4 linked regions of the Homo sapiens genome follow. The protein of the gene in region 3 purifies or fractionates together with the protein of the main gene of each other region. This does not show direct contact. Each region holds a gene or a part of one and is shown on either strand. Other genes may lie near its edges.

Region 1 (4,499 bases), on a different chromosome or scaffold from region 3:
ATTGTAAAATATCCATTTATATGTCCATCTCTTTCACTCATTTATTGAAAAATATATATTTATAGAGCATCAACTATGTACCAGACAATATGAGAGAGACTGTGATTGGCTATAAAACACAATCCTTGAACTCAATAACTTTGCAGCTAGTGAGGAAGACACTCAAGTATGTAACACATATTCTATTTTAGGGACAGATACAGAGTTCATTCAAATAAGTCCTGGGGCTGGTGAGGGAGGGTTACTGGAAGAGGAATGCAAGAGAAGAAAAGAAAGGGAAGGTGATGACAGAAAACATTACCAACATTCAATGAGTAAAGAAAAGAGGAAAAGTAAGGGAAACTATAAAAGCTCCCAGACTGTAAAGATAATACATCTCTTGTTCACTTCTGAGTCCTCTGCACCTGGCATAGTACTAGGTACTCATATATCTCTATAATAGACAAAAAAATGCAATAAATATATTTAAGAAATCAAGGTATGGTCGGAAAGACAGGAGGAAAATAAGAAATAGTGGCAAAAGGCCAAGCATGGTGGCTCAAGCCTGTAACCCCAGCACTTTGAGAGGCTGAGACAGGAGGATAACTTGAGCCCAGGAGTTTGAGAATGGCCTGGGCAACATAGGGAGACCCCGTCTCTCCAAAAAATAAAAACTTAGCCAGGCATGGTGGCATGCACCTGTAGTCCCAGCTACTGAGGCGAGAGGATCACTCGAGCCCCAGAGGTCGAGGCTAGTAAGCCATGATGACACCACTGCATTCAGACTGGGTGACAAAGAGAGACCCGATTTCAAAAAAAAAAAAGGCAAGAAAACAGTGACAAGAGAGATTTAAAAATGTGGTCAGCAGCACCCAATGCTTCATGGAGGTCAACTTGGATAAGGGGTAAAGTACATCTTAATCCATCCACTGGATTAGAATATGGATTACTAGTAATTTCTACAAGTAATTTCTACAAGTTACTAGTAATTTCAACAAGGGGCATTTAAGTGGCTTGGTGGAATCAGGAGCAAGATTACAATGAACTTAATAGCGAACAGGAAGACACAGCATGAATGTGGACTGTCCACTGTCAGAGAAAGGCACAACTTGAGTGAAAGCCATAAGATGAAAGACTGACCTGAGACTGGATGAAGGATACTTCATTTATAAAGTAGATGCAAAAGAGGTCAAGATGGGCATAGATGTATAGAAGTTTAGATGAAAAAGTAGGCAAAGCAAAGGTGCTCATAGGCAATAGCTTTCTATTTACCTCGTGAATTTATGCATGACCAAATTAACAAGTACCCATGTTACCTGGCAAGATGGAGTTAAATACACATAGGACCAGAACACGAGCGCTGAAGGGCTCCTGTTTGATATTCCGAAACAAGGGGGCACAAAGCCTTTCAAAGATGTAGTACACATAGAAAAAGCAACCAAAGACCTGGAACATAACAGAGACAGAATTATAATAACGATGGCTTAATAAGATGGAAGGCGATTTTTTTCTCTCCAAAAGAAAGTACAGATGTGACCCTTACAGTAATGTTCGCATATGTATTCCATTTAACACTAGTATAGAAGACTGCTATAATCCTTCAGGGAGATTACTCAAGCCTAGTTTCTACCATCACTTTTCCTAACCCTTTACCAAATGATATTTTTAGAAGAGCTTACTCTTGGAACCTGTTTTCCTGCTGCTTAAAACCCGTAACATGGCCGGGCACAGTGGCTCACGCTTGTAATCCCAGCACTTTGGGAGGCTGAGGCGGGTGGATGACTTGAGGTCAGAGTTCGAGACCAGCCTGGCCAACATGGTGAAACCCCATCTGTACTAAAAATACAAAAATTAGCCAGGCGCAGTGGTGGGCACCTGTAATCCCAGCTACTCAGGAGGCTGATGCAGGAGAATCGTTTGAACACAGGAGGTAGAGGTTGCAGTGAGCCAAGACTGCATCACTGCACTCCAGCATCGGTAACAGAGCAGGACTCCTTCTCAAAAAAAAAAAAAAAAAAAAAAAAAAAAAAAAAAAAAAACCCCTTAATGAAAGAACTTACTTCATAAATGGGCATTTGATTGAGACACTAATTTAAAATGGGATCTTCCAGGATTAATGATTCTGATGGAGGTGGGAGGAGGAATGGGTAAGAGTCAGACTATACCCACATACATATATACCTCCCCCAAAAACAGGAAGGAAGGGGGAAATTAATGCTTACTGAAATAACCAATTAGAATTACTTTATAAATAATACATTCTTTTTTTTTTTAGATGGAGTCTTGCTCTGTCGCCCAGGCTGGAGTGCAGAGGAGTGATCTCAGCTCACTGTAACCTCCATATCCCAGGTTCAAGCAATTCTCCTGCCTCAGCCTCCTGAGTAGCTGAGATTACAGGTACGTGCCTCCACGCCAGGCTAATTTTTGTATTTTTAGTAGAGATGGGGTTTCACCATGTTGGCCAGGCTGGTCTTGAACTCCTGACCTCGCGATCTGCCCACCTAGGCCTCCCAAAGTGCTGGGATTACAGGCGCAAGCCACTGCGCCCAGCCTAATATATTCTTTTATTAAAGAAAATTACTTTTGATGTTGGCAAAACAAACACCATTTACCGTACTGGAAATAGTTTAAAAGACTGCATAATGTCAACAGAAAGCATTCTTAGCTCCCAATTAGATTTAACTAGATTATATTATTATCATAAATATGAATCCCCATCCCCTAATCAACATACCTTAGGCAGTTACAAAAACTTACCTGTGCAAACTTCATAGCGACATAACCCCATCTTACAGTGGGATTCCTGAAAAAGAAAGAAACAAAAATAAGGTTTCTAAATAAAGTAATTGAACTTGAATAAAGACCCTCACAATTAATGTTTTTTGGTCAGGCGCGGTGGCTCACACCTGTAATCCAAGCACTTTGGAAGGCAGTGACCAGGAGTTCGAGACCAGCCTGGCCAATATGGTGAAACCCCGTCTCTAATAAAAATACAAAAAAACCAACCGGGCGTGGTGGCACACACCTGTAATGCCAGCTACTTGGGATGCTGAGGCAGGAGAATCACTTGAACCCAGGAGGCAGAGGTTGCAGGGAGCCGACATAGCACCACTGCACTCCTGGGTGACAGAGCAAGACTCCCATCTCAGAAAAAACTAAAATTAATTAATTAATAAAAAATAAATTAAAAATAATAAAAATAAATAAAAATTAATTAATTCAGAACATCATTTATGACCATATGAAATACTTTATAATTCTGTCAAGAATTACTATAATCAAATTAGACTTCCCTACTCACCATTTGAGGCTTCTCAGGTCAGACAGAAAATGAAAACTCATTCTATATTTTCTATGTCCCTACATGAACTGGCCCCTGTTTACCTATCCCACCTCACTCATGCCACACTTTTGGTGTTTACCACATTTCTGGTTCACAGTACCATTACCTGGGATAGCTGTCACGGTAGATAAGGGTAGGAGCAAATAAGAAGTACAAATACTGGTTGACTGTAGGTATTGGAACAGTGCCTAGAAAAGGAAAACTATAGTTAGAGCAAAGGCTCTTTGATTTTTCACAGCAAAAATACAGGGGGGAATATAAGGAAGCACAGAACAGGGAAGAATAAAATGACTTATCAGCTCATGTTCTTTTTTCCTGATCTCCGGAATGACTTCTTATTCTTGCACGAATTGAATATTACCAATCTCTTTAAACCAAGTTATTCCTGTGACTGAGATAACTTCTAGAGTGTGAAGCAACAATTTGCAAAGAATAGGCAGGCACAGGTGTAATGAGGCTATTAACATTCCATAAAAATAATGCAAAGTTGCAAAAGATAATCAATTTTTTAAAATTGTAGGTTCAAGGGCAAAGCCGGAATAGTCAGGAAACAATGAAGTGGTCCTCAAAATCAATATGGATAATATATATTTGAAATAAAACACAATCTCTACATTATATAATGTGACATCCCAGAAAACAACAAAGGGTGAAATATCCAGCCAATAATCCTTTAAACTAATGAAATTACACAAAGAAAAGAAAAGAAAAAGAGAGAGAGAGAGAAAGAGAAAGAGAAAAAGAGAGAGGGAGGGAGGGAAGGAAAGAAGGAAAGAAGGGAAGGGAAGGGAAGGGAATGGGGTGGGGGGAGAGGAGGGGAGGGGAGGAAGAAATAATGAACAAAAGAAATTACATACTTGATTTCTCCTTAGCTGAATTTAGTACCCGAGGCACGTTCTCTCTGACAAATGAGTGGGCCTTCATTACAAAACGAATCTACAAAAGCAGGAGGAAAAAGATGTCTCTTCAAAGAAAGTCTCCTGCAAGTGTCCTTTCCATTAGTCAAATGCATTATAGATAGCCAGTAAAGTCAGAAAATCCTGATAAGTGTATAAACAAATTAAAATAAAACCTTTATTATATAGTTACATGACAAAACAATGAATCTGACATTTCAAAAGTGAAGTTTTTAATTATGAAAATATTTTATAATTTAAATGACTTTTACAAAAAGTAT
Region 2 (5,035 bases), on a different chromosome or scaffold from region 3:
TTAATTGCAAAAATAAAAAATAAGGTCTCACTCCATTGCCCAGGCTGCAGTGCAGTAGCGCAATCTCCGCTCACTGTAGCCTTGACCTCCTGGGCTCAAGTGATCCTCCTGCCTCAGCCTTCTGAGTAGCTGGAACTACAGGCACGCGCCACGCCCAGTTAATTTTTTAAAATTTTTTACAGAGATGGGTGTCTCACTATGTTGCCCAGGCTGGTCTTGAACTCCTGGGAATGTGATCATCCCACTTTGGCCTCTCAAAGTGCTGGGATTACAGGCATGAACCATGGTGCCTGGCCTAAATTTGTCTTTTCTCTTGTTATAAATGTACCTACTAATAATTTTGATTTGCCTCTAGGATCACTAAACCTAAAATATTTACTATCTGGCCCATTATATATAAAACGTCTGTGGACCCCTGGCTTAGTGAATTGTAAAAATATTGCTGGGCATGGTAGCTCACACCTGTAATCCCAGCACTTTGGGAGGCTGAGGCAGGCAGATCACGAGGTCAGGAGTTTGAGACCAGCCTGGCCAACATGGTGAAACCCCGTCTCTACTAAAAACACAAAATAAGCCAGGCGTGGTAGTGCGAGCCTGTAATCCCAGCTACTCAGGAGGCTGAGGCAGGGGAATCGCTTGAACCCGGGAGGCGGAGGTTGCAGTGAGCCGAGATCCCGCCACTGCACTCCAACCTGTGCGACAGAGTGAGATTCCGTCTCAAAAAAAAAAAAAAAAAATTAATAGCCACCATTTGTTGAGGGACTTGTCTTGTATGTGACAGTCCTGGGCTATGTATTTTGCATGTGTCCTCTCACATAATTGTTTCCATAACCCCTTGAGGTAAGTACTGTTACTCCTCCCATTTTCCTGAAGGAATTGAGTTTGGAGAACCCAGTGCAGGCCCTAAAGCCCCCTACTAACCTCTTTACTCATCTCTAAGGCAGTCATGGCTTTAAACCTAAAAGTATGCATGAATAGCCCAGGCGCGGTGGGTCACGCCTGTAATCCCAACACTTTGGGAGGCCAAGGCAGTCGGATCACCTGAGGTCAGGAGTTCAAGACCAGCCTGGCCAACATGGTGAGACATCCTGTCTTTACTCAAAATACAAAAATTAGCCGGGCGTGGTGGCGTGCTCCTGTAATCCCAGCTACTCGGGAGGCTGAGGCAGGGGAATCGCCTGAACCTGGGAGGCAGAGGTTGCAGGGAGCCAAGATCGTGCCATTGCACTCCAGCCTGAGTGACAGAGCAAGACTCCGTCTCAAAAAAAAAAAAAAAAAAAAAGAATATGTATGAATAAAACCCACAGATGACCCCAAATCTTGAAGCATTCCTTCTGTAACCATTTCACAAGTGCTTATTACATGCTGGGCACTCTCTCCAGGACCTAGGATATAGCACCGAAGAGACGGCTGTCTCATGAAGCTCATATTCCAGGTGGGTGAGACAGACAAGAAATGAGCAAAGAAGGAAGTTTCAGGTAATAATCAGTTTACCTAGAAAATAAAACAGCATGACGGGAGAAGTTTTTTTGCCGCCTATCCTGGCTTCAGACTCTAACCGGTAAGATGAGTCTCAGCAACGTGCAGGTTAAAACCTAATGACCTGACGTGTAATTAATCCCAGCGCTTTTGGGGGCAGGGATGATGGCTTGCGCCCAGGAGTTCCAGACCAGCCTGGTAACAGAGTGGTGCTCTGTCTCTATGAAAATAAAATAAAATAATCCGGGCATGGTAGCGCACACCTGTGGTCCCAGTTACACTGGAGGCTAAGGCGGGAGAATCGCTTGAGCCCAGGAGGCGGAGGCTGCATTGAGCCGAGATGGCACCACTGAACTCCAGCCTGAGCAACAAAGCGAGACTCCATTTCTAAAAGAAAAAGAAGACAGAGAACAAGAAAAACTAAATAAATGGCCCCTTAAAATCATCCGCCACATAATAAAGAGCCTAGGAAACGTATTTTACTGAGATGGGAGAAGGGGAGTGGGGAGGAAAATGGGAGAGCAGAGGGAGGAAGGAAAGGCAGAGAGAAAGGCAAGCAGGCAATGACTAAGAAAGAAGGCTAGAAGGAAAGGGAAGAGGATGTGAATGGAGGAGGTGGTCCGCTGGCCGGGGAAACCGCATCCTGGAACTCGTTCCTAATCCCAGTTCCGAGGGAGGCGGAAGGGGCTTTCTTGCCACCCCCAAGTTGTCCCGAAGGGCTCGCCCTGCAAGGCCCGAGACCCGTGCGCCCCTCTGGGCGAGGGCGGGGAAGGCTGGAGCCCAGGGGCGGGGACCGGGACGGGAAAGGCCGGGCCCGGGGCTCCCAGTTCGCTCTGGGCCCGCAGAAAACCCTGCAAACCCAGCTGCGCGGGGACTCCGTGGGCGCTGCGCGGCGAAGCTGGAAACCAGCGCTGAGACCTCTCGGATTCCCCCCGGCGGCTGTCCCGGGGGCCCGGCTCCACCTTTGCCGTTCCGGGAAAAGCGGACGTCAGCCACAGACCCCAGCCCAGCAGGAGGGGCCGCGCGCGGGGAAGGGCGCACAACACCAGGGAGCTTCGCGCGGGCGGCGCTGGGCCCGAGCCCGCCTCTCCCGAGCTCCGCTTGCCCTTCCCGAACCCCGGGCCAGCCGGCGCGCCGAGCCGCAGCCCCGCCCTCCTCCTGCTCCTCGCCCCCTCCCCTGGTTTCCGCCCCAGCCGCACCGCCCCTTTACCGTCTGGGTCGCGCCCGGCGCGATTGCATCAGAGCCGGCGGCCGGCTGCGCACGTGGAGCCGGGCGTGCGGTCCATGCCGCTAGGCGCCCATTGGAGATGCCCACGCCCACCTGCGCTGCGGGCCCGGTCGGGTACTGGATCCCCCGTTCTCCGCCAGCGCTCCCGGCCGCAGTGCCCAAGCCCGCGTTTCCCGACACACCGCCCGGCCCCCCTAATGAGTTGGCACCAAACACTCGCAGCCCCGCGCCCCGCTCCCCACGGCGGTCCCGGGCGCTCCGCCCCTGGGTCGGGGCCACAGCCGCTGGAGACCTGGGCCAGGGCCAGACCCGACACTCACCTGACGATGGAGTCCCGCGCCGCGGGCGTTCGGCCGCCGGGGCTGCAGCTGCTCCGGGCCTGGCCATCCTGCGGCCGCCGCTGTCCAAGCAGGCCCTCCCGGCCACCGCCGCCGCCTCCGCCGCCGCCGCTGCTAGCGCGACAGGGCACACGGAGGCGGCGCGGAGGGCCCGGGGGCTGGGGCGGGCGGCGGAGCTGGCGCAGGACGAGCGGCAGACGCGTGCCCATGGCGCGGGACGGCTGGTTCTCAGGGGACACGGAGCTGCGGCTGCCGAGGGCGGCGGGGCGCGTGCCAGGGGAGCAGGCGGCGGCGGCGGCGGCGGCGGCGGGAAGGACCTGGCGCTTCCTCCTCGTCCCAGGGGCCCCTAGGGGGCACTGCACCCGGCGGCCGTGACGTGCGGAGGGCGGGGGCCTGCGAGCCGCCGGCCGGGATGTCACGGCTTTGGGCACTTTGGTTTGGTAAGCTGTACCAGACAGAGGGTGGGGTGCGGAGTGGGACTCAGACTCTGCCCTGAGACTCAGCCTCCCTCCCTTCAGCCTGAAAGGCCGAGGTGACCCTTGGTACTCAGGGCGCCAAGTTTAGACGGGAGGGCTTGGATTTGCTGTACTGGAGGTGGCCTGAGGATAAGAGGCTTTGTAACCTTAGGCAGGGGCACTTAATCTCGGTGAGCTTGCGGGGTCTTCGTCAGTACCACAGAGATAACAATGCTCTTCTTAAAACCTTAAAAGGATTTTATAGTCCTGATTGGTTCCAGGGCCCCTCCAGGGGACCCACGTCCACAAATGCTCAAGTCCTTGGTAAAAAAAAAAAAAAAAAAAAGTGTTTGCATATCACCTACACACATCTTCCCATCATAAACTTTAGGTCATCTCCACATTCCCTAAGTCCTCACCTAACATCGTGGAGGGGTTCTTGGAAACTGAAACTTTAAGCCAAATGACTGTAAGGAAAACAGTTTGACCACAGGCTAATTGATATGAGTGAAGTTCCTACAACATATCTGTGGTCACAAAATCGCCCCTAAACTTCGAAATAAAGACCAAAACACTTCTAATATTAAACATTGAAATAAGTGTGAGCCATGCATATATTTAAGGAAGATTTTTAGCTCACGCCTATAATCCCAACACTTTGGGAGGCTGAGGTGGGCAGATCACGTGAGGCCAGAAGTTCAAGACCAGCTTGGCCAACATGGCGAAACCCCATCTCTACTAAAAATACAGAAAATTGGCTGGGTGTGGTGGCGCGTGCCTGTATTCTCAGCTACTCGGGAGGCTGAGGCAGGAGAATCGCTTGAACCCAGGAGCCAGAGGTTGCAGTGAGCCGAGATCATGTCACTGTACTCTAGCCTGGGCGACAGAGCACAGCTCTGTCTCAAAGAAAAAGTTTTTTTTAAACACCCCCTATCCCTCTCGCTTAGAGAAAAATAAAGATTAATAAAAGTGAGATCATTTTTACCGGCTTATTCCAACTCAGGGCACCTCACAGGGTGTGCTCACACACACCCACACTCACACTCGGATCGTGTAGATGCACCAATTTACCTAAAGTGCACTGCACGGCTTTGGGATGTGACAGGACACCAGAAGACAGAGAAAATCCACACAGACATGGATAAAACGTGACAGTGGACCCAGCCAGAAATCTATTTTTTTCTCATCATTATAAGAAAACCACTGAGCAAAATGATGAAATGATGTTATTCCAGGACCTGCTGTACTTATAATACCTAATACAATGTAAATGCTATGTAAATAGATATTACACTGTACTTTTTTATTTCTATGATTTTTTATTATTTTTTGTTATTGTAATTTTTTCAAATACTTTCAGTCCCAGGTTGATTGAGGATACAGAGGGCTGACCATAAGTTCCAAGTAAAGTGGATATCAGATTGTAATTTTATGATTCCCAAGTGAGGGTCAGATTGTTAACTTTATATTTTTACAACCTTATACCCTTATAATTCCCAGATAAGGTGGGAATAAAACTAGTCCAAGTTACAGAG
Region 3 (4,499 bases):
GTGTATACAGTGTTGTGAATGTGCTAAAAACCATTGAATAGTACATTTAAATGGGTGAACCGTATGGTATATGAGTTATATCTCAACAGAGCTGTCATTCAACAAAGGAAAAACAATGCAAGAGTGACTGTAGTCTCCATGCTATTTATAGTTACTCTGAAGTTTCTAATTAATGCTATTATACAAGGAAAAAAGATAAATATTGGAAAGGAAGCAACACATTATTACAGAAAATATTTGGCTACTCAGAACATTCAAGAGATTCATACTAGAATTAATTTTTAAAAGTTTGGTAAGGACGCAGTTATAAAAACTCATTGGGCCTTGGGCTACTAGCCTTACTGTATAAACAGGTCTTATAAATATGTAAGAAATGCTGATCACCCAGTAGCAAAGTAAACCAGTGATATGAAGACCATTCACAAAAAATACACCATGATGGATAACCATACAAAAGAATGTGCAGCATATCAGTAACAAAAGAATTCTTGTAAAAAAAAAAAAAAAACATAAGCTAGTAGGTGAAGGGCACTGTTGTCGAATGTATGCCTTTAACATACATAGACTTTCACAAGTCCTCAGGAATTTCACAATGCTCCAGAGTAAATTGTATAAGTACAGATATTTATAATACCTAATTCTTTATTGACCTCAGTAGATCTCTGAAAACTGGGAGGAAGTGAGATGGGACCCTCTAGAGCTACTCCTAGAGGGCTGGCTTGGCTCTAAGGGCTTAGAGGAGACTGAGGCAATGGGAGGTCTTGGGTCCTGTTTGCTCTTGGTGTTTTGAGGAATGTTCACGAGGTCTGCTACTCCCCTGGCTCTCCCTTGGAGTAGATGGGAAGTCTGAGACTCCCAAACTAGATCAGGACCACACCTCCTATTATTTATTCATTTTTGAGAAGGAGTTTTGCTCTTGTTGCCCAGACTGGGGTGCAGTGGTGCGATCTCGGCTCACTGCAACCTCTGCCTTCCAGTTGTAAGCAGTTATCCTGCCGCAGCCTTCCGAGTGGATGGGATTATAGGTGCCGGGCACCACGCCTGGCTAATTTTTGTATTTTTAGTAGAGACGGGGTTTCACCATGTTGGCCAGGCTGGTCTTGAACTCCCGACCTCATGATCAAAGTGCTGGGATTACAGGCGTGAGCCACCGTGCCTGGCCTATTTATTTTTTTTGAGATGGAGTCTCACTCTGTCACCCAGGCTGGAGTTCAGTGGCACGATCTTGGCTCACTGCAACCTCTGCCTCCAGGGTTCAAGTGATTTTCCTGCCTCAGCCTCCCGAGTAGCTGGGATTGCAGGCACCTGCTACCACCCCAGGCTAGTTTTTATGCTTTTATTTTATTTTATTTATTTATTTATTTATTTTGAGATGGAGTCTCACTCTGTCGCCAGGCTACGGTACGGTGGCGCAATCTCAGCGCACTGCAACCTCCGCCTCCTGGGTTCAAGCGATTCTCCTGCCTCATACTCCTGAGTAGCTGGGACTACAGGCACCCACCAACACACCCGGCTAATTTCTGTATTTTTAGTAGATACAGGGTTTCACCATGTTGGCCAGGATGGTCTCGATCTCTTTACCTCGTGATCCACCTGCCTCGGCCTCCCAAAGTGCTGGGATTACAGGCGTGAGCCACCGCTCCCGGCCAATTTTTGTATTTTTAGTAGAGACGTGGGATTTCACCACGTTGGCCAGGCTGGTCTTGAACTCCTCACCTCAGGTGATCCACTCGCCTCGGCTTCCCAAAGTGCTGGGATTACAGATGTGAGGCACTGCACCGGCCCACAGCTTCTATTTAAACTGAAGAATGGAGCGAATACAATGCGTTAGTTCCTAAGCTGCATGGAAGCAAATACCATTTTGGCTTGAGGGATGAGTCAGTGTTTCTCTGCAGGTGGTTGATCCTTGGCAGTGGTAGGATTGCTGTGCGCTGTGGTCATTACAGGAATGTTCCTCTGGTGGTTATGGTGGCTGTGTCTTACTAGAATTACCATTGCTTCAGTTTTCTCTCGCTCTGTAGAGATTGTCTTGTCATTTCCATTACATTTCATGTTAGGATGATCTCAGTGCACATGTCCTTAAAATTGGTCTGCATATGAGAGAGGTATGCTTTGTAAAAATTGTTTCCAGAAATCTCTTCTAGCAGTTTGGATTTTAGCTGAGTGGTGATAATGCCATTCATTAGGAAGATTTTGTTATAAATGAATGTAAGGATCTTGAGATGGTATGTTTTCCACATTTCTCTGATACTTTTTTCTCCCGTATGTATGTTTATACTTGCTACTAGTTTGTATGGAAGCAAAGAGCCTTAAGGCCATTTCTACAAGCTAGAAACACATAGGAAAATGTGCTTTTTTCTTTTTCATAGAATGTAATTGATACATAGTGTAAACTCAGAACATTAACACATACACTTTCTGCTTTAAATTAGAAATGTAATATAATTATAATGAAATGAAAGCGTTGACCATTGTAAAACCCAGAGAGGGTATTCTTAATAGGATCTACACATCTTTTGTGGTACCTTTAAACTCATATTTTCGTAACTGGTGAATGTTCATCTTTTAATATACACAATCCTACTCTGAGATCCGATTAACTTAAGGGGAAGTTTTTGGTTTTTATTATTGGGGGAATTCTCAAAAAATTGTATTTTGGAGTAAGTGTGAGTTTACCCTGTTATCATTTATTTCGTGAATTGCTCTTCTGCTTTACGGTAACTCTTTTCATCATGCCGATTTCTCTAGGTTGAAAATGTCCGCTTGGTAGATCGAGTGTCTCCTAAAAAAGCAGCTCTAGGTACTTTGTATTTGACGGCTACCCATGTCATATTCGTGGAAAATTCACCTGACCCAAGAAAAGAAACATGGGTATGCTTTCTTTATTTTTAGCTTTCCTTGTTTTGCGTTGTTTGAAGCAAAAAGTGTTTGCCCTCCATTCATTTTTCCTCAGGGTGAGATGGGTGGGCTTTTGTGCCTGGATGTTGGGGAACTGTTTCTGGAATGTGTGTTTGGACTTTTTCTGTGCAGTCGTATCTACTTGATCGACTATTCATTTTAAACATGAATTATTTGAACATCAGTGAAGAGAGACTTAGAACTAGCCAGAAGATACAAGTGCTTCCTGTCACAGCTGTCAAGGAGAGATTCAATAATGTCAGTAGGCCAGATTCAGCATTGTCATCCTCCAGTGCTCCATTTGCAATAGTCTCTATTTGCAGGGTCCTGTAATGCAGCCATTTGGTCATTTTATTACATTGCCTCTACTTTTCTGATAATTTTAAAAAGAAAGAAAATCTAGAGGAGCTTCATCATCAGGTATTTCTCCTACTTATTAATGAAACCATTAGATATTTGAACATCACTAAATAATAATAATTATTATTATTAATATTATTTTTGAGATGGAGTCTTACTCTGTTGCCCAGGCTGGAGTGCAGTGATGCGATCTCAGCTCACTGCAGCCTCTGCCTCCTGGGTTCAAGTGATTCTCCTGCCTCAGCCTCCTGAGTAGCTGGGACTACAGTCACGCGCCACCACGCCTGGCTGACTTTTTTGTGTTTTTAGTAGAGGCAGGGTTTCACTATGTTGTCCAGGCTGGCCTCAAACTCCTGACCTGACCTCAAGTGATCTGCCCACCTTGGCCTTCCAAAGTACTGGGATTACAGGCATGAGCCACCGTGTGTGGCCTTATTATTCTTTCAGCAACCCAATCATGACATCCCTGAATTGTAGATTTCCCTTTGCTGTATTTCGTGCACAGTGGTACATTTTTAGCAGAAGGTGGCAGGCACTTCTTAGTGGAGGGGAAACTTAAAGATTAAAATGCTGCTATTGAAGACTGAGCATAGACCCTCCTGTAACACCAGAGATGCACTTCAGTATGATTTCCTTTAAAGTTAATCTCCTCTTTAGAGAGTAGAATGATGGTTTTACCAGAGGCTGGGAGTGCAGAGGAGGGGGAGGGAATGAGGAGATATTGATTGAAGGGCACAAAGTTTCCAAAAGACAGGAGGAAAAGTCTGGAAATCTATTGCACAGCAAGGTGACCATACTCAATAGTAATGTATATTTCAAAATAATTATGAGAGTAAATTTCAAGGGTCTCACTGTAAAAAAAAAAAAAAAAAAAAAAAACTATAGGTAAGTGATGGCCATGCTCATTAGCTTGATTTAATCATTCCGTATGATGTACATATATCACAGCATCACACTGTAGCCCATAAATGTGTACAACTATGATTTGCAATAAAAATATTAATTTAAAAAATAAAAAGATAAAATAAATCCCTTCTTTTGCAGCCTGCCCGACCACCAACAGCTTAGAAAACAACAATCCCATGTTGATACAGAACTCGAACATTCCATGTGGAATTAAGGAGCATGGTGGCACCTCCCAGCGGAGCCATCTCTAACTTGTGTTGACTGCAGAAGTTTATTTTACTAACTTCTCATGACCTTATTTAATTTTAGCTATTAAGCGCATTCAATATTTGACT
Region 4 (4,499 bases), on a different chromosome or scaffold from region 3:
ACTTAGAAGTCGTTTTCTAGCTTCAGGTCTGAGTTTAACCTCACCTAGAAAGTTTTTTTAAAGAAAAAATATATTGTTAATAAAATAATTAAATGTGAGGAACAAAGCCATTTTCAAATACTTAGATTACAAAAAGACAGCTTCAAAACAACTAATTTCCATAGTTAAAAAAAGTAGAAAGCAAAAATCTCGAAGTCTTCATAGGAAAAGCAAAATATTTGAAACAGTAAAAAGATAGCTTATTTCTTTTCCTTTAAAGCAGTAACAGTGCTTCAGAAACCAAAAGGAGAGAAATGTCTCTTATAATTTAGAATTCAATTGGAAATAGAAGGAAAATAGAGAATTCAGAAAAAGAAGCATGGGATTTGCCAACAAAGACATGTATTCAATCTTGATTCTGATAACATTATGACTTTATACACTGAACATGTTACTTAACTTCTCTGGGTTAACTGAGTTTTCTAATAATTGTATGTTGTATATCGAAAAAATGTTCAGCAAATAGTAACTATTACTGGGTAGAAAAAAGCTTCAGAATGACTGTATCACATTTTAAAAAATGTTACTTCAAAGTTTTAGGAATGTTTCGAGGACAAAAACATACCATTAAATATAGGGCTATAAAATTAGGATTTAGGAAACATGTATCTTCTTTTTTTTGAGACAGGGTCTCACTATGTCACTCAGGCTGGAGGGCAGTGCTGTGTCCACAGGTCACTGTAACCTCAAACTCCTGGGCTCAAGCAATCCTCCCACCTTGGCTTCCCGAGTAGCTGGGACTACAGGCATGTGCCATCATTTCTTGCTGATTTTAAAATTTTTTGTGGAGACAGAGTTTTACTATGTTGCCTAGGCTATTCTCAAACTCTTGGCCTCTAGTGATCCTCCCCACCCTGGCCTCCCTAAGTGTTAGGATTACAGGCATCAGCCACTGCCTGGCAGGAAACAAATCTCCATTGAGATAATTTCTATTGCAAAAAAAAAGCCAAAAAAACAAAAAAGTTCAAGTTCTACAATTACAAACCTTATAGTACAATCTTGTGTCGAATAATGAGCATCCTTCATGATTATCAAGGTAGAAAACCTTACAAAAATATTAGCTTTTCTCCAAATTTCTACTTTTTTGGACACCAGGCATAAAGACTTCTCTCTATTCTTTTATTTGGCAGCACGATGGATAAAGAAAATTTGAAAATAAATCAGGAGGCTTCAGTTCTTGTCTTGGGTTACCTATTTAGCCATATGACTTTGGGGCAGTCATAAAATCTATTTGGTTTTCACTCTACTAAATAGAAGACTGGCAAATGCAAACTCAAAGGTCCTCTTTAGCTCTAAAATACTACGACTTTATGATTCTTTCATATTTTACAAAAGTTTTACGAAATGTATCTAAGAAATAACTAAACATTATAATAGATTTTTCTAATTTATAAATTAAAAAGATTATAAATCATATACACTATCTTATGAGGCAGAACTGAAATTCCTATATAAAATATGGATGAAGGATCCAGATTTACTGTGGTTAATAATTTAGTTTTGCTAAATTATAGGAAATATAAAAAATTACAACATCTCAGAAAACGTAGTAAAACTGGATATAAAATGGTGCCAAAAGTATTTGCTCTTATGAATCAAAAGAAAATAAAATGCTATTTTTTTGAAAACATATGCTCTTGGCTCCTCACAGCCAATTATGTAAAAAATTTCACAAGTTCATATTATTTGGAGAGTTTATATATAAGTTACATTATGTTTATGTATATAAAATGACAAAATAGTTAATGTTGCTTAATAGACTGCCTGAAAAATTAGTCTTAACACATGCCAGAAGAATTAAAAATCAGTATTATCATATGTTAGAATGCATGTTACTTGAAAATAGTTTACTTCAAGTATTTTAAATATTCTTTCTATAAATCAGTTAAGCACAGTATTGCTATAAACTGTCAATACATAAAGTGTTTGCTATGGGTAATAAAGTTAAATTAAGGTCTTATTATATTATAAACTACAATTTATATAAACAGAAATATTTTGAGAAAACATACCTGATTCTTGCATTACTATAGCAGAGTTGAATAATGCTAGTTTATGCTTTGGATTTAGTTCCAGAGCACGATTAAAGTTTTTTAGGGCTTCATTTGGTTCTTTAAGTTCAATATGTACAATTGCCAAGTTGTACCAAAGATCTGCATTATTTCTGTCCAGCTCTAGTGCTTTAAGATATGCTTCCTTTGCTTTAAGAGGTTTATTCATTTTTAAAAGCAATTCTCCTCTGTGGAAAAATCAAACACAAGCTTTACTTACAACATTACCATCTCAGTTTGTAGATACAATTTTTGCCAAGTTTTAAGCCTTTCCACATACAGCTTTTTTTTCTCTTAACTCAGACTCTTAAAAAACTCTCTTTCGAAAACAACTCTTTGAAACTGTCCTCAAATCTGAACTCCTTAGTTCAGTATATTTGGCTTGATATATTTTCAAATATTATTTAAGAAGAAAAAAATTATGCCTGATTTCAGAGGGCAACCTATCAGGAGGAATCCAGGAAGGAGGACAGAGCAAATATATTCTTTGACTTTATCTTAAAAAGGAGACAGACTAAACTGCATCAGAAAAAGGGCAGCTAGCCAGAGTGAAAGATTAATGAATTTGTCAGGTGACAAAATAACAGCATTAGAAGAAAAAAATGACATATAGTAGTGGTAAGAGAAATTCCAATATTTGAATGTATAATAGAAGGCTCACTATGCAAAAAACCAAAATATTAAAAATCTGTAACCCCTTCTTATATTAATTTAGTCCTCATCAATGTCTTCTTATAATACGACCATTCTTAAAAAAAAAAAAGAAAAAAAAAAAAAGAAAAATGCTGGGCATGGTGGCTCGTTCCTGTAATCCCAGCACTTTGGGAGGCTGAGGTGGGCAGATCACTTGAGGTCAGGAGTTGGAGACCAGCTGACCAACATGGCAAAACTCTGTCTCTACTAAAAATACAGAAATTTGCCAGGCATGGTGGCACGCGCCTGTAGTCCCAGCTAATAGTGAGGCTGAGGAACAAGAATTACTTGAACCCAGGAGGCAGAGGTAGCAGTTAGCCGAGATCACACCACTGCACTCCAGCCTGGGTAACAATGTGAGACTCTGTCACAAACAAACAAACAAACAGAAAAAGGACTAAAAAAAAGCTGAACAGGTAGAGTGGGAGGGATTAATCTGACCTGTAGATAACTTTGAGGAACACACTTAGAATTGAGGACCAGTTAAGAAACCATTGTATAAATCTTTCTAGTGTGGTTCTATTTTCTGTTAGAAAATTTTAAAAAGTAATTTTGCTTAAAGAATTATTTTTACATATGTACAAATAATATTTAAGTAGTGATATGAGAGTTGTTCTTATAATACTACTCTTTCCTATAGTATCAGCACAGAAATAAAAGGAACAACAATTAATATTCTCATTAAAACCACTTCTAGAATGAATGTTTGTCCAAAATATTATTTTTTTAATGTAGAGATTGTTGAATAGTTCTTTATGAATTAATACATGACAGGTGTTATTTATAGATACAACCCTGCTAATAAACTCAATAGGCACGGCGGAACAAAGAAAACCCCAACTTACAAACAGATTTTATCTCAAAAACTTAAATTCAGAATGTACTTTCCCCAAAGGAAAAAATGTTACAAATTACTATTAGTTTTCTGGACCAGGCTACAAAACGAAGTTTAAAAACACATTTTTCCTCAAAAGTAATACAAATGATAACACATACATGAGAAAATAAATGAAGTTTTAACATGTGGTGCCAGAAAACTTTTTTTTTTGCTGAGAACCAAGATGTTTTCTTTGTGTCAAAGGCATCAATAACCAATCAACTCTAAAAACAAGAAAGTTCCTGAGAGTTTGATATTAGAAGTAACTATTATAAAATGTAAGTTTCAAGTTTTAATTTAAATAGGAAAAGAACAATTTTGGTGATGGGAAGAAAATGCAACTAAGACAGAGCTGCTTCTACCCTTTCCTTAATACAAAACCTAAGTTGGCTATTACAAGTTAGGGATTCCCCTTGTTAATTTCAAATCAATAAAATCTGACTGTCAGTCTAAAAAGTTATGCTCTTCTATGCACTTGGTTGCTAAGTAAGATTATTAAAAACATAATTTTTTTTCAAAAAAAACCAATTCATTCAAAATGTACATGGAGATGCAGTTTCAATATTCCATAATGATAGCTTAAAGTTGAACTGGGATACCTGCTAATGTAAGCCTGCTTGAAGTCGGGCCTCATGCTTATTGCTTGACGGTACAGCTGATCTGCTTCTTCCAGTCGGGACTCATTTGCTCGGATCAGGTTAGCCAGATTGATATAAACATTTAGGTGGTTAGGGGCAATTCTGGCTGCATATTTTTTACCAGGAATAATCTGTTTAGAAGAAAAGGCATTTTCATGATTTGATATTTCAGTATCAAAAATCAAAAGTACATATTCCTAT

Evidence for each region.
Region 1: the proteins of MTMR7 (region 3) and SOAT1 purify together in Homo sapiens (affinity purification with mass spectrometry, with the first as the bait; one large-scale study listed by BioGRID). This does not show direct contact.
Region 2: the proteins of MTMR7 (region 3) and MTHFD1L purify together in Homo sapiens (affinity purification with mass spectrometry, with the first as the bait; 2 studies listed by BioGRID). This does not show direct contact.
Region 4: the proteins of MTMR7 (region 3) and TMTC3 purify together in Homo sapiens (affinity purification with mass spectrometry, with the first as the bait; one large-scale study listed by BioGRID). This does not show direct contact.

The regions. Positions count from the first base shown.
Region 1 is NC_000001.11:179,341,873-179,346,371, reverse strand, and holds part of SOAT1 (sterol O-acyltransferase 1), read right to left. Parts: intron 4,363-4,499; exon of another isoform or gene 4,259-4,362; coding exon 4,180-4,258; intron 3,511-4,179; coding exon 3,429-3,510; intron 2,783-3,428; coding exon 2,737-2,782; intron 1,426-2,736; coding exon 1,296-1,425; intron 1-1,295.
Region 2 is NC_000006.12:150,864,042-150,869,076, reverse strand, and holds the start of MTHFD1L (monofunctional C1-tetrahydrofolate synthase, mitochondrial isoform 2 precursor), read right to left. Parts: upstream 3,376-5,035; 5' UTR 3,255-3,375; coding exon 3,028-3,254; intron 2,745-3,027; exon of another isoform or gene 2,719-2,744; coding exon of another isoform or gene 2,690-2,718; intron 2,631-2,689; exon of another isoform or gene 1,865-2,630; coding exon of another isoform or gene 1,743-1,864; exon of another isoform or gene 1,495-1,742; intron 1-1,494. UniProt on the Homo sapiens protein: May provide the missing metabolic reaction required to link the mitochondria and the cytoplasm in the mammalian model of one-carbon folate metabolism complementing thus the enzymatic activities of MTHFD2.
Region 3 is NC_000008.11:17,371,490-17,375,988, reverse strand, and holds part of MTMR7 (phosphatidylinositol-3-phosphate phosphatase MTMR7), read left to right. Parts: intron 1-2,748; coding exon 2,749-2,871; intron 2,872-4,499. UniProt on the Homo sapiens protein: Lipid phosphatase that specifically dephosphorylates the D-3 position of phosphatidylinositol 3-phosphate (PtdIns(3)P) and inositol 1,3-bisphosphate (Ins(1,3)P2).
Region 4 is NC_000012.12:88,190,383-88,194,881, reverse strand, and holds part of TMTC3 (protein O-mannosyl-transferase TMTC3), read right to left. Parts: intron 4,430-4,499; coding exon 4,260-4,429; intron 2,279-4,259; coding exon 2,052-2,278; intron 45-2,051; coding exon 1-44. UniProt on the Homo sapiens protein: Transfers mannosyl residues to the hydroxyl group of serine or threonine residues.